Linked DNA regions of Homo sapiens. The protein of the gene in region 4 purifies or fractionates together with the protein of the main gene of each other region. This does not show direct contact. Each region holds a gene or a part of one and is shown on either strand. Other genes may lie near its edges.

Region 1 (3,514 bases), on a different chromosome or scaffold from region 4:
TGTGTTCATTCTCTTTGTCATGAGGTTTCCAGGCCCCACTGCCCTCTCCCCTTTCTCCCATCGTACTTTTTTGTTTATTTTTTAGACGGAGTCTCGCTCTTGTTGCCCAGGCTGGAGTGCAATGGCACGATCTTGGCTTACCACAACTTCTGCCTCCCTGGGTTCAAGCGATTCTCCTGCCTCAGCCTCCCAAGTAGCTAGGATTACAGGCATGTGCCTCCACGCCCAGCTAATTTTGTATTTTTAGTAGAGATGGGGTTTCTCCATGTTGTTCAGGCTGGTCTTGAACTCCCAACCTCAGGTGATCCACCCACCTCAGCCTCCCAGAGTGCTGGGATTACAGGTGTGAGGCAGTGCGCCCGGCCGCCATCGTACTTTTTCACACCAGAATCTCCATGGACAACCATATCTGCCCCTATACAGGTTAAGTATTCCCTCTATATCCAGCCCCTAATTCTCCCCATCAAAATCTTTTGGTCTCTTGACTTAAACATGAGCTTTATCAAATCTCCTGAAGGCTAATTCGAGTTTGGCAAATATTTCTGGAAAAGACACCAAGAACAATTTGGCAATCTGAAGGTTCCAGCAGTTTTCCCCAGTAGGTGGTGGTTATTTTTTATAAGCCGAGCTGCTGAAGAGACAGGCTGGGGCCACCATGTCAACCAGCCAGTCTAGAACCCCTGATGTGGGCTCACAAACAAGACAGCAAAGTTCTGCTGTCTCACTCCATGACTATGTCTGCATCGCACTCCAATTAGTTCAGGTAACCAGACAACCACAAGGGCACAAGAGGAGCACTCAACCCCTGAGCAGAGCTCTAGCTCACCCTTCCATGTGTCCACAGTTCATTTATTGAGAGTTTATTCTGTACAAGACACTTCAGCTAGATGAAACATCCTTTCTACATTAACAGATTCAAGTTCTTCAGCACCTACTGTGTGCCGGGCTATGTTCTAGATGCTTAGGATACAGAGGTGAACAATACAGACTTCCCACCCTCATGGAGCTTATAACCTTAGGGGATGAAGCTGGTGATAAATTTGTAAACAGAGACCGGGTGCAGTGGCTCATGCCTGTAATCCCAGCACTTTGGGAGGCTGAGGTAGGCGGACTGCATGAGCCCAGGAGTTTGAGACCAACCTGGGCAACATGGTGAAACCACGTCCCTACTAAAAGCACAAAAATTAGCCAGGCTTGGTGGTACGCACCTGTAGTCCCAGCTACTCAGGAGGCTGAGGCAGGAGAATCTCTTGAACTCGGGAGGCGGAGGTTGTAGTGAGCTGAGACCGCACCATTGCACTTCAGCCTGGGTGACAGAGCGAGACTCTGTCTCAAAAAAAAAAAAAAAGATCTGGGACCCAAAATAGCCTTTCTTCTCCCCGGCCAGCTATGAGGCTGAGGATGGGCTGCCTGTTAGTGAATGCCTGGGCAATAGGCTGCTTGGTTCCATCCCTCTGGGGATGTTGATGCCTGTGCTGACCCCATGACATCCACGTCAGTGCCTCCCAAAATTTTTGGAGGACAAGGAGGGGCAGGGGACACTGCCCTAAATAGAACCCTTCTGACCACCAAGGGTCTAAACATAATGGGACAAGTTATAGGGATCATAAAGGCATTTGCCATTCAAGGAGGAAGCAATGGATGGGGCTCCTTTCCATAACAGTTCCACAATAGGAAGCCCCCAAGCAAGGGCGCCCCTTTTTCAATTTTTTCCTCAGTTAATGTTGCTCGAGATGGGGTGATTCTCACCACCACATCCAGGTCCTCAGCAAGCGTTGCTTACACTGCCTCCAAAACATATCCCAAATCCATTGGCTTCACCTGCTCCTCCGTGGTCTGGTCTGGACTCGCTCCAGCCGCCTCACTGAGGTTATATCTGTGATTATACCTACCCTCTATAATTCATCCTCTCCACCTCCAGCCAGAGCAAGCCTTTTAAAGTGCAAAGCAGATTGCTGTACCCACCAGAAACCCTCCTGTGACTCCCCATTGCTATTGGAATAAAACCCAAACTTCTTACCACACCCTTACCATGGCTTTCTAAGGCCCTACATGATCTGGCCCCTCCCTAGTTTTCTGGTCTTCTCATTCTCTCATTGCTTACTGTCCCTGAACATCCGGGAGCCTCTGTACTTGACTGTTCTCTCTGTTCCAAATGTTCCTTCCCTGAATTTTTGCAGTGTTGGCCCTTTTCATCATTCAGGTCTCAGTTCAGATGTCGGCACCCGAAGGAGGCCATATCTGATCATGACTACCTCTCAGTTTCTGTCATATTTTACTGTTTTTAATCTGTAAGTTACGTTGAACTCTGTTTACAATTTTTTTTTGGTTTTAATCTTTTTAAAAAATTATTATTTTTACACACAGGGTTGCGCTGTTACCCAGGCTGGAGTGCAGTGGCGTGATCATACTCACTGCAGCCTTCACCTCCTGGGCTCAAGCGATGCTCCCACCTCAGCCTCCCAAGTAGCTGGGACCACAGGCACATGCCAACTGCGTCCCTTCATTCTCTGTTTTTGATGTCTGCTGATAGGAATTTCCTGAAAACCCAAGTACCAAGAAGCAATAAAGGTAGTGGTGTGAGACTGTTCCCTTCCACTTAACCTGCCCATGTCTTTTTTTTAAACCCTCTGTAGTGACAGTAGAAATGCACAAGCCCCATGCCACTGCCCAGCAAATAACCACACTGCCCTTGAAGCAGCCATGGGAGTCAGACGGGGGACAGGGCTGCTTCGTCATCTGCATAGTACTGACCATAATGGTATCGGACATGTAACAAACCCAAGTCCATGCTCATGATGGGAAAATAAGAACATTATGGACAGGTGGGGCATGAGCCTCAAGCTATGAGCTCCTCATGCCAGGCCAACCAGTGCTGCCAAAGCCCTTTCAAAGTTCTCATGGCCAGGGGCGAGAGGAACGCCAGGCTACCTTGAACTCATGCCTAGAACTGAAATGTGTTTTAACGACAATTTAATTCCTCGCAAGCTGAAATGTCACAAAGTGGAGGAGGTGGACCTGGAAGAACTCTGCAGCCTACAGCCTTGGGACAAAGGGCTTTAAATGAACTTTTCAAAGAATTCTGCTGGCCTTTTAGAACCTTCCATTGCCTAATGCTCACTAAAAGCTCACCAGATCTCCACCCCCAGGCATTATTCCTTCAGCAGCTACATTATTTCTGCTTACAACTTCAGACGACATCTCAAACCCAACGCTGACCACCCAGGAAATCAGGCTGGGGATCAGCAGGGTGGGAAGAAGTACTCAGTGAATGAATGTTCCAGATATTGGACATGAAAGAAGAGTAAGACAGTCCAGCCCTGGACAGAGAAGACTGTGACAAGAAGGATACCTAAGTGTGGGAGAGAAATACAAAGTGCAAGGGGAATACTTGCCTGGGGCAAGAGTGTCAAAAAAGCACCTCCAGGAGGTGCCATCAGCACCTTCAAGGATAGGCTATCTCATCATTTGGATCCTTCTGGTCATCCGCTGGATCCTTTGCAAAATGAGGTGC
Region 2 (3,514 bases), on a different chromosome or scaffold from region 4:
CTACTGGTTGATAGCATTTAAAAGCTTATCATATCAGTATAAAAAAGATCCCTGGAATGATTAGACTTTCCCAAAAAAGGAGCTGAAGCCTTCAGAGATAATTAGCTTCCTCATCCTGTGAGGGAATTAGAGATGGGTCAAGGGCTTGAGAAGAGAATTCTCAAACTGGAGTGGGGGTTGAACTATCACTTTCCTTTCAACTCTTAAGAATCTACTTTCAGGGGCTCTTAAAGGGAGGCCATTATGTATACCAGATTCTGTGGAATCGGGAAACAAACGGTGCTAAATAAAAAAGTTTCTTCAGGGTGGGAGGAAGAGGCCAGAATTGTGATTGTATTAAAAGTTTACACCATCAGCTTTAAATATTTGCTTATGTGTGTAAATATCAAGAGGTCTTTGTTAGCTCGACACTAGTTAGTAAATCCTGTGTTTCTAAAACAAATGATATTCACTCTAGAGTGTGATGATTGCAGAACTTGGGAACAACAAGTAGTCAATGAATGAATAAATGATTATCTGAATAGATGTTATGTTGTTCTTGATAAAGTCCTATAGGAAGGTGGCCCAATTGTGCCTTTTCACAAAAGTACGTTATATGACAGGAAAGCATTGTAGCCCAGACATAGTATTTGGGATGTTTCCATCCTTAGTTGAGATTTTTTTTTTTTTTTTTTTTTTTCCGACAGAGTCTCACTCTGTCACCCATGCTGGAGTGCAGTGGAGCAATCTTGGCTCACTGCAACCTCTGCCTCCCAGGTTCAAGCAATTCTTGCACCTCAGCCTCCTGAGTAGTTGGGGTTACAACGATGCGCCACCACACCTGGCTAATTTTTGTATTTTTCATAGAGAACAGGTTCCATCATGTTGGCCAGGCTGGTCTCGAACTCCTGGCCTCAAGTGATCTGCCCGCCTTGGCCTCCCAAAGTGCTGGGATTACAGATGTGAGCCACCGTACCTGGCCTTAGTTGAGATATTTACATGGAACCTTTTTCTTAAGGACAAGTGGTATTTTCTTGAATGTCTAAGAAACAGTTGGGTTTTAAAATATTGATCATATGTAAATGTGTATATCATGAAATAGTGGACAGTGTGGGCTTTGGAGCTAGATATACCTGGGCTTATATCCCGGCTCTGCCAGGGTTCTTGGGTGTTTATTCAGTAGTTATTTATGGAGCCTTTTCAATATTCCAGTCTTTGCTAAGCACTGAGGCCACAGCAATGAACAAGGTAGACAGGGTCCTACCCTTAATGGAATCTATGGTCTAGTGGGACAAATTAATCTCTGTAAACCTCAGTTACCTTTTCTGTAAAACTGAGATAATAATACCTTTCCATACAGTTCTGGTGAGGCTTTTAGTAGACAATGTGCTAAGTACATAGGAAGTAATGTAAAAACGTTAAGCCATTAGAATTGGTAACTCTGTTTTCCTGGCTGGAGAAGTTAGGAGACATACGTTATTAAGTGACTGTTCTATGTTTTGCTGTAGTAAAGTCCATCTGTTAAAAAACTTGAGCAATAATTATAATTGACGTTTATTAAACACTGAGTATGTACTAGATACTGCCCTGAGTGCTTTCCATGTTTTAACTCATTTCTCAACAATCCTGTGAAGGATGTGTTCTTATTCATCACATTTCCAGTTGTGGAAAATTAAGGCACCAAGTTCTCACCTGGGAGCATTTCAGTGCTGTGTGTGATGGAGCTGGCATTTGAACCCTGGCAGTCTCCAGGGATGGTACTGTTAACATCACAGTTAGGATTTAGAGCTGTTTAAAACAGTACAATCATTTCCTGATTTTAACTTTTCTGATCTAAAATCGGAAATGTGATGTTAAGTGATACGATATTTGATATTTTTGATAAATAACATATATTTTAGTAAATAAGTCACCCAGGAACTTTGCATAACAGTGACTTTACGGGTTCAGAGAGACAGTGAATATCATCTCCTGAAGTGCTAATAAGTTTTTCATTGGAGAAAAGAATAAACCATTTGTCATTGCTTTAGTACTGTAACATTTGTAGTCTTTTAAGAGGAACATAATTGGAGAAGCAGAGTACAATATTTCATCTCTCTGTAATATGCATTTGTTCTTGGGTGAATTACTATATTCTCCTAAGATGAAAGCTCAGGCATCTGGGGAACATTTTTACAAAATGACCTTGAGCTGATAGGCATCAGGCATTATTGGCAAATGGGGAAAATACTACTTTAAAAATCTAGGATGTTTCCATCAACAGCACAGAACTTGGTATATTTAGATTCTTCATCAACCTCCATTGCAAAATATTAGAATAATAGAATTAAAAACTGGATGTGACCTTCAGCCATCATCTAATCTGAATGCCTCATTTAATGGCTAAGGAAAAGTGAGTCCAGACAGTGATTTTTGTATTTACTTAGCCTGTTTATCTTATCTATCATATTTATCTTACCTGTTTGTGTTAAATAGAGCCTTAGAGTGAAACCATGAGGTTATAAGGCTTACCTTGAAGTAAAGTCTGGAAAAGTCATGAAGGTTCTGTAATATACAAATACTGTGTTGATAACTGTTACTAGTATGATTTGTATTAATGCTTTTTTTTTTTTTTAGTTAAGAAGGAGATGCTTTCTTAGAATATTTCAAATTTTAACTCTATACATCATGCCTTCATATTTAGTGGTATTGTTTAAGGCTTTCTTTTTTTTTTCTAATCTTGGATTTATGAGCGTAATTCATTGCTTATTTTCTTCCTTCCATTTACATTCCTTCCATAGAATGGGAGCTGACTGATATGGTGGTGTGGGTGACTGGAGCCTCGAGTGGAATTGGTGAGGAGCTGGCTTACCAGTTGTCTAAACTAGGAGTTTCTCTTGTGCTGTCAGCCAGAAGAGTGCATGAGCTGGAAAGGGTGAAAAGAAGATGCCTAGGTAAGCGGATCTGAAATAGCAGCGGTGCTTCCTAGAAATAAATCAGTCCAAACTCAAATACAGTTTTGGGACTTTTAGAGAGGAGTGAGATTTCCCCCCGGCTCCAAATGTTCTACATGCTTCATCTCAGTTCCTCTCCTTTTTGCCTTAATTGGCTGCCCTCGCCTTTTTCTTCTTTTCTGCCACCTTTCTATGCTTTTTTTGCACTGACTCTTGGCATTAGGGAGTGACCAACAATTATATAAAATGCTGGTGGATTTTTAGTGACCAAGTATCTTAGATTTTTGTCTTAGAGAAAAAACAGTTGGGTTCTTATCCATGACATACATGTATCTGATCATAGAAATTAGGAAGAATCCTTACTCATTTTATTAAAGTATCAGATATTAAAATCATATGGGATAAGACTTATTATATAGGATAAAAGAACAGGAATGGAATTAGCTTTAAAAAATACAACTTGAGGTAATACTTTCATATTCACATAAAGGGCAACAGTGTTAATATTTTTGTTTGAATTTTGGTGTAGTTATGTTTACTTTTTTCTTTTTGAGATGAAGTCTCACTTTGTTGCCCAGGCTGGAGTACAATGGTGTGATCTT
Region 3 (3,712 bases), on a different chromosome or scaffold from region 4:
TGTATAAGATGAGTTGCAAATTAGCCGGGCATGCTGGCACGCACCAGTAATCCCAGCTACTTGGGAGGCTGAGGCAGGAGAATCACTTGAACCCGGGAGGCAGAGGTCATGGTGAGCCGAGATCACGCCACTGCACTCCAGCCTGGGCAACAGAGCGAGACTCTATCTCAAAAAAAAACAAAAAAAAAAACAAAAAACAAAGATGAGTCGCACATCTGCTGCTGGGATTTTCTAGGGTTGTCTATGACAGAATGACCATCTTTTAAATATTAATGGAGTATAAATGGAGTCTATAATGGGTCTTTCATATAACTTTTAACTCTTTGGCTATCCTGGGCTCTGATCATGATATGTTTGAGCATAGTAGCTCCCTAAACTCTTGGAGCCTTTCAGAAATTCCATGTAGTGCTAATAACCTTTTTACTTGCAAATGATAAAGTAACTGACTCAGTGTCTTTGGGCTCTGCAGGCTTTAGCCTTGTTTTGGTAGGATGTTCAGTATATTCTCAGAATTTTTACCACCTATTTAGCTATACTTCAAGTACTCTATTCTCTGCACTAACTTACTGTCCTTCTGGGAACTATGATGGGGCTTCAAGGGAGTCAGGTGTCAAGAAAGGAGGGGTAAGTACTCTCTACTTGCTGGAAAATCATTGTAAGTCTGTTGTGTATGAAATTTTAGGAAAAGTCTTATATAGTTCCCTTTCCAGACTGTTTTCTTTTGACTCTAACTATAATCATAAGTCTGTGCTTCCATTATGAAGGTCACATTCCTAGCATTCTTGGGAAGTATTAGCTCATACTCTCATTCACATATGGGAGGTTAGATTTTTTTCCTCTACCCAGAGTCCCTTTTTAGTTTACCCCACGGCTTAGTTTGCTGTCAGATACCAGTTCTCTAGCAGATTCCCCAACAGTTTTTTCCCCAGTGGGGAGGGTGGAAGGGAGGGACTGATATAAGTAAGGAGATGAGTAGTTGTGTTACAGTTCATTTTCTTTAAAAAAAAGTATTTTGAGAAAAGGTGCAAAATATTCTTGAAAGTCTCTAGGCCAGCCAAAGTCCACATATGGATATTTGGGGATGTTATTTAAATACTCAGCAGGCTGAGTGCAGGTATACGTGTGTATAGAGTGTGTATACTTTGCTTTTGTTTTATAACATTGTCAGCTAATTTTGGCTTTGTTCTTTGGCATCCATTCTTATTATAAGTGATGGAATGCCATGAAATGTACTGTATTGTATATTACTTGGGAGGACACTAGGTTTTCAAAGAAGTCTGGCAGCACTTGGGTTATAGAGGGCTCAGCATGACCAAAGTCCTAAAGATTTTACCTCCCAGCTTTGGTTGTATGTGTTCCCAAGTGGTGAGGTGAGATTGTGGCTGGAGGAAGAAAAAGGATGGCATGAAAGAATGACCCTTATTGTGGTCTGTCCTTCTAATCAACATAATTAGGGCAGCTTACCCCAACATGAAAATGATGACCTGGCCATTTTTAATGGCCAGAGCTTGAAGTCTGGTCTCTCATTTTGTTTCAGAAATGAGTGAGAGGCCTTCCTGCAGAGCAGTCAGGAGAAATGGTGGAGCCTGGGGCCCTGGAATGGCTGACCCTGTGCCTAGAGAGCTGATGGCAAGGGCTGTCTGGCATGGCTCATTTGGGTGGGGTTTCCCCAGGCATACCTTAGTTCCCTGATCCTCTGCAAAGAGTAGCTCATTGACTGAGCAAGCGCTTCAGGAGGACTGTGCTGGTTGTTCCCAGACCAAAGAGAGTCACTTTTGACTCCATCAACTTCAAGGGGACAGAGCCTAGGCAGCAGATTCTCCTAATTTTTAACACTAAAATTCAAGGAAGCAGTGGAGGAAAGAATGCATTACTACCACAGATAGAAATAGGGGACTCATAGAACTCTCGACTAGTACCTGTCAGCTCTCAAATGCATTCTTGTGTCTTTGCTTGAGCTGCCAAAGAAGGGTCACAAAGTGTTCTTCCTCATGGAAGAAGTGCCTCGGGGTTGCAGGGCTGCAAAGTGACAACTGCACTGAATGACACTTTATTTTTTGGCTTTGGCTTATTATTTAGCACTGGGAGGCCCAGGGGAATTGGTGATTACAGTAGCACTTTGGGAAGTTAAAGCCCCCTTTGGGCTTGCTTTGGAGAGATGATGGCATGCTTGGTATTCCATTTGGATAATCAGGAAGCCTCCCTAGTCCATCCATATTGTGTCAGAGTGGGATTAACAACCCTGGAAGAGTCCACTGCCAAAAGAGTAGTTGCTTTCCTGGAATTTCCAAAGCTTTTGGATTTTCTGGATCAAGTAACCCACTTTTTAAAACCTGAGGTCAGGAGTTCGAGACCAGCCTGGTAACATGGTGAAACCCCGTCTCTATTAAAAATAGAAAAAATTAGCCAGGCATGGTGGCGGGCACCTATAGTCCCAGCTACTCAGGAGGCTGAGGTAGGAGAATTGCTTGAACCCAGGAGACAGAGGCTGCATTGAGCCAAGATCACACCACTGCACTCCAGCCTGGGCAGCAGAGCAAGACTCCATCTCAAAAAAAAAAAAAAGAAAAAGAAAAAGAAGGTTAATCCTTCAGTTATGGAGGTGGGATGAATAGAGCTTGTTTGATGTTAAAGTGGGTAAGGAGGGAGTGGCCTTGAGACACTTGTATTCCAAACTCTCCTGGAGGTTTCCAGTAGCACTACTGTTCCTAAAAGGGTTTCATTTTTAACTTCATCTGTTTTGTTAACATCCAGTCCAATTGAGGTGATCTCAGAGGTGCATCAGGACATCTAGCACTGGGGAGGCCACCTTGCCCAGATAGTTGAAAAGAAAATTGGTCTGGGCAGCCTGTTGTCTTTTGTCTTCATGTAATGTTTTTTCTTTGTTTTAAAGGACTAATGTTTATTACAGTGTTAAATAAAAGTGTAAGATACTAAGTGTGTAGAATAAAAGTGCAATAACAAAAGACAATGACTTTGGCACACACTTCAGTCTTTATCCTCTCTCCTTTCTTGTGCTACCTGGCTCTTTCCATAATATTGTTACAGCAGGACCGTCTTAATTGTGTGCATTTTGAAGAGATGCGACTCTGGGTTAATCTTCATTAGTGTAATATTGAAGGGTTGGGTTTGGTTTTATAGAGTATTCTGTATACTTGTTGGGATACACAAATACCAGATGTGCTGTATAATAAAGATCACATTAACGTTTTAGGTTTCTATCTGTTTGGTTTTGGTTTTCCCTTACCTCACTACCCATAGTAACAGGACGTTCCCTAATCCATTCCATTTCCACTGGTGACCTTCAGTCAGATGTCTTTCAGTTTGCCTTAGGAGAGATGGATGGAACATGTTCCTCTCCCATCAGGGGCCCTCCCCAGCCACCATGGCTCTTGGCCTCTGGGTACTTTACATCATCACTACTGAAGGGTGGGGCAAGGGAATGGGAGATAGGATAGTGGAGAAAAGGGGTGAGATGATAGTCATGTATCTTCCAGAGCCTATCCTGGGTGACATGCTTTTTTCCAGCTTCTTTTAAGCACGAACCTGCAGCATTGTGAGTTCATATATGAGCCTAGCTACTCTATTATAATACATGGTGAGGGAACTGGGCACATAATCTTACGCTGGCCTATCTGCATGTAGTGTATTTTGCATTTTCTATTTAGGCTCACCCCAGTGCTGAGATTTGCTTGCTCAGCAGTGCCTGACA
Region 4 (3,241 bases):
TTCCATTTAGCATCTGGCCACACATCACCCACCTCATCTAATTGCAGATTCAAGTGTCATGGCTTGTCAGTGGGGTCCAAAAGAAATGCAAGGGATTATATCCCCAAGGAGGAAATGAATCAATCCTGAGCACCTACCTGCTTCTTGACATGTATATTCCCTTCCACGGGAAGATTGTAAGCACTCTGGATCAGATTTTTAGCAATGAAGTAGTAGTAAACAGAGATGATCGACAGTGGAATGACGTAGAAGACCAGAAAGGAAGCCATAGAATGGATTTTGGGGTGAAGCTCATTAGAGTGTGGGTATGGGGCACAGCTAATGAAGGTCTGGTTGGTGCTTTCCTCATGGAAGGGATGGAGGTCAGAAAACACGGCCTCTGGAATGGCCAGCAGCATGGAGATGATCCAGATAAAGGCGGCTTTGAGGCAGATCTTCATCAGGGCATGAGAGGCCTGGATATCCATTGGCCGGACAATGGCTTTGTATCTAGGGCAGGAAAGAAGCATCCCCATCAGTTGCATAATATTATTCTGAATACCAGGGCCAGGACTAAGTTGAGGCAAGCGAGACACCTGGCGTACAATATTTAAGGAGGTGCTCACTTTCGGGTCCTGAGGGTGCCGACTCTGAGCTCTGTGACCCTGAGAGTGAGTGCCTCCTTAAATTTTGTACTCCAAATAGCCACTTGCCTCATTCTAATCTAGCCCTGAAGGATGCCTTCTCTTCTCTCCACAAGTACCATTCCGCTTATATTCTCTTTTTGTCTTAATTTAAAGCCAATTAAAAATAAATAAATAAAAATTGTATATATTTACTGTATACAACATGGTGTTTTAAAATATGTATACACTGTGGAATGACTAGATTGAGCTAATTAACATATACTTTACCTCACATACTTATCTTTTTAAAATGAGAACACTTAAAATCGACTCAGCAATTTTCGAGTGTGCAATACATTGTTATTAACTATAGTCACCATGTTGTACAATTCACACTCTCTCTTGATTTTAAGAATACCTCTTAGAAAAGCTGAATTTCCCTTTGTTTTTCTTCTTAAATCATAGAAATTAATAACAAGGCATGTTGCTAGTTAAAGGACACAGAGACAAGGAGGTTGGCTTTTTTTTTTTTTTTTTTTTTTTGGCAAAACCTTCATTTTGCGTATTCAGATCCACTTCAGGGAACCTTAAGTCGTTGAGTATTTTAAATATGCCTCTTTTCTTTTTCAAAGTATGCATAATAAATGGTCCCTTGAAAAAGTAATACCCAGGAGAATCCCTGTAATTTTCACATTGATTTTTCCCTTGCCTTCCTGATCTCAGCCTTATCTTCTCTTGAAGTATTTAGGTTCTTCCTGGTTTGTGAGCTATTTGTGCCCATGTCTTGGGTTGAGTATTCTGGGAAGCAGACACTGAGATGAAGTAAGAAATACAAATTTTATTGAGGAGCAATACCTGTGAAAGGAAAAAGGGGAGGAAGTAGGATAGAAAGAGGGAGCTTCTCAGGTCTACACCAGCGAGGATGACTAAACATCTTGGTTTGCCTGGAAATTTTCCAGTTTTAGCATGGTAAATCCTACATCCTGGGAAATCTCTCAGTCCAAGCAAACTGGGATAGCTGGTCATTCTACGCTAGCCCAACAGGAAGCCTAGGAACAAAGATTACCCAACGGGGAAGTCCTGCTTTGGGTGGAAATTGCCAGGCCCATGTATAATCACCTTGCTTAGTCATTGCATGGGGTCACCCCAGGAAGAATGTGATCTCAGTTACCACCTGGCTCAGTCACTGGGCAGGAACCACCCAAAAGAACATGACCACAGCTTGAAAGCTGAAGTGGACCCTGAAAGAGCTGGTAGTTGGAGGCTTCAGCTAACCACACCCCCTGCAACTGGGCAAGTCTCTTCTTCAAGGGAGGTCTGAGCAGCACATCTCCATGTCTGCACACTCCCCATACGGTCTCTAGCACAGTGAGTGACAAGACAAGGGCACCATTATCTTGCGTACACCTGTCTGAGAACCCACCAGAGGATGAGCCTTTGGTGGGCAAAGAGTATGTCTTTTTCTATGTTGGAATCTGCCAGCACTGTGATTTGCACACACTCCACAAAAGTTTGTTCAATTGAACATGAGCTACTATAATGTGGAAGTTGATATGAGTTGAGACCAACTACATGTGAGGGTGTTTATTGCTGAAAATGCTGTGTTTAAACTGGACTCTACTTATGATACTCTTTTATATCATGGACTTCAGGGAAGGGGAATACTTATTTCCACTTGTTTTCATGTTGATTAGACCTCCATTGGTTTACCACTCTTGGCTGCACCCTGACTCCTCACTCACTTTCCTCCTCCTACCAGGGAAGGGGGAATTATTCAGTGGCAAGTTTGGGAAAAAGAACCTGGCTTGTGCATTGGGCTCAGGGAGGATTATGGTTGTTTAACTGGCCCTGTCTAGAGGAATGGCAAGTGTAATATAGAAGATAAGAGAGTGTCTGCAAGTTCATTATTGCTATAGACCTGAGTTACATTCCCCAAACAGCTTTATCAGACATAGATGCAACTATTTTTATCATAGTCTCTCTGATTTCCTTATCTGGCTTTTTGTTCTCAAATTAGGTAGGGAAGAGAGGGCTATTATTTATTAAACATCCCCAAACCCCAAAATTCCAGAACAATACTACAGTCCTGCTTCAATGTACCTGTATTTGCTTTATTTTTAAACAAATACAAATAAAAATAAAAATTTAAAATAAAGTTCTATTTTCTTTTGGATCTTCTTTATTCATTAGCCATTTTAAACATTTTCCTAGCTTAGAATGTAGGCAAGAAATTGGTATCTTTAATTAAAGGCATGAGAACATCTTCAGCCAAAGATGCATATGGCTAAAGATATCGCTAATAAATTTGTTAGAGATAAAATGATAACTAAGACTTCTATCTGCATTTTCTGGCAGATAGCAGTCATAATTACACTAACTCTCTGAGTAAAGGTGATTCACTCAGTCAGAAACCAGAGTAAATGGCTTACGTCCTTCTCTTTTAGGAATCTTGTCTTCCTAGGTGCAAAATACCATGGGAACTATGCTCTTTCTTTTAAATTCACAACTTTTAAAATATAAAATATAGTATAAAGCATTTATAGTTTTACTAGAAAATTAATTTGAATCTAAATCTAATTAAGCCTCTAGATTTATGTGCCAGTCTTCAGGAAATATGGTGATAGAAGAACCTGCTA

Evidence for each region. Proteins that work in one complex are often made in the same cells at the same time.
Region 1: the proteins of GRPR (region 4) and FADS1 purify together in Homo sapiens (affinity purification with mass spectrometry; 2 studies listed by BioGRID and IntAct, with this or other methods). This does not show direct contact.
Region 2: the proteins of GRPR (region 4) and DHRS7 purify together in Homo sapiens (affinity purification with mass spectrometry; 2 studies listed by BioGRID and IntAct, with this or other methods). This does not show direct contact.
Region 3: the proteins of GRPR (region 4) and DSTYK purify together in Homo sapiens (affinity purification with mass spectrometry; 2 studies listed by BioGRID and IntAct, with this or other methods). This does not show direct contact.

The regions. Positions count from the first base shown.
Region 1 is NC_000011.10:61,807,003-61,810,516, forward strand, and holds part of FADS1 (acyl-CoA (8-3)-desaturase), read right to left. Parts: intron 1-3,514.
Region 2 is NC_000014.9:60,155,398-60,158,911, reverse strand, and holds part of DHRS7 (dehydrogenase/reductase SDR family member 7 isoform 1 precursor), read left to right. Parts: intron 1-2,759; coding exon 2,760-2,912; intron 2,913-3,514. UniProt on the Homo sapiens protein: NADPH-dependent oxidoreductase which catalyzes the reduction of a variety of compounds bearing carbonyl groups including steroids, retinoids and xenobiotics.
Region 3 is NC_000001.11:205,142,004-205,145,715, reverse strand, and holds the end of DSTYK (dual serine/threonine and tyrosine protein kinase), read left to right. Parts: 3' UTR 1-3,211; downstream 3,212-3,712. UniProt on the Homo sapiens protein: Acts as a positive regulator of ERK phosphorylation downstream of fibroblast growth factor-receptor activation. Involved in the regulation of both caspase-dependent apoptosis and caspase-independent cell death.
Region 4 is NC_000023.11:16,147,553-16,150,793, reverse strand, and holds part of GRPR (gastrin-releasing peptide receptor), read right to left. Parts: intron 490-3,241; coding exon 138-489; intron 1-137. UniProt on the Homo sapiens protein: Receptor for gastrin-releasing peptide (GRP). Signals via association with G proteins that activate a phosphatidylinositol-calcium second messenger system, resulting in Akt phosphorylation. Contributes to the regulation of food intake.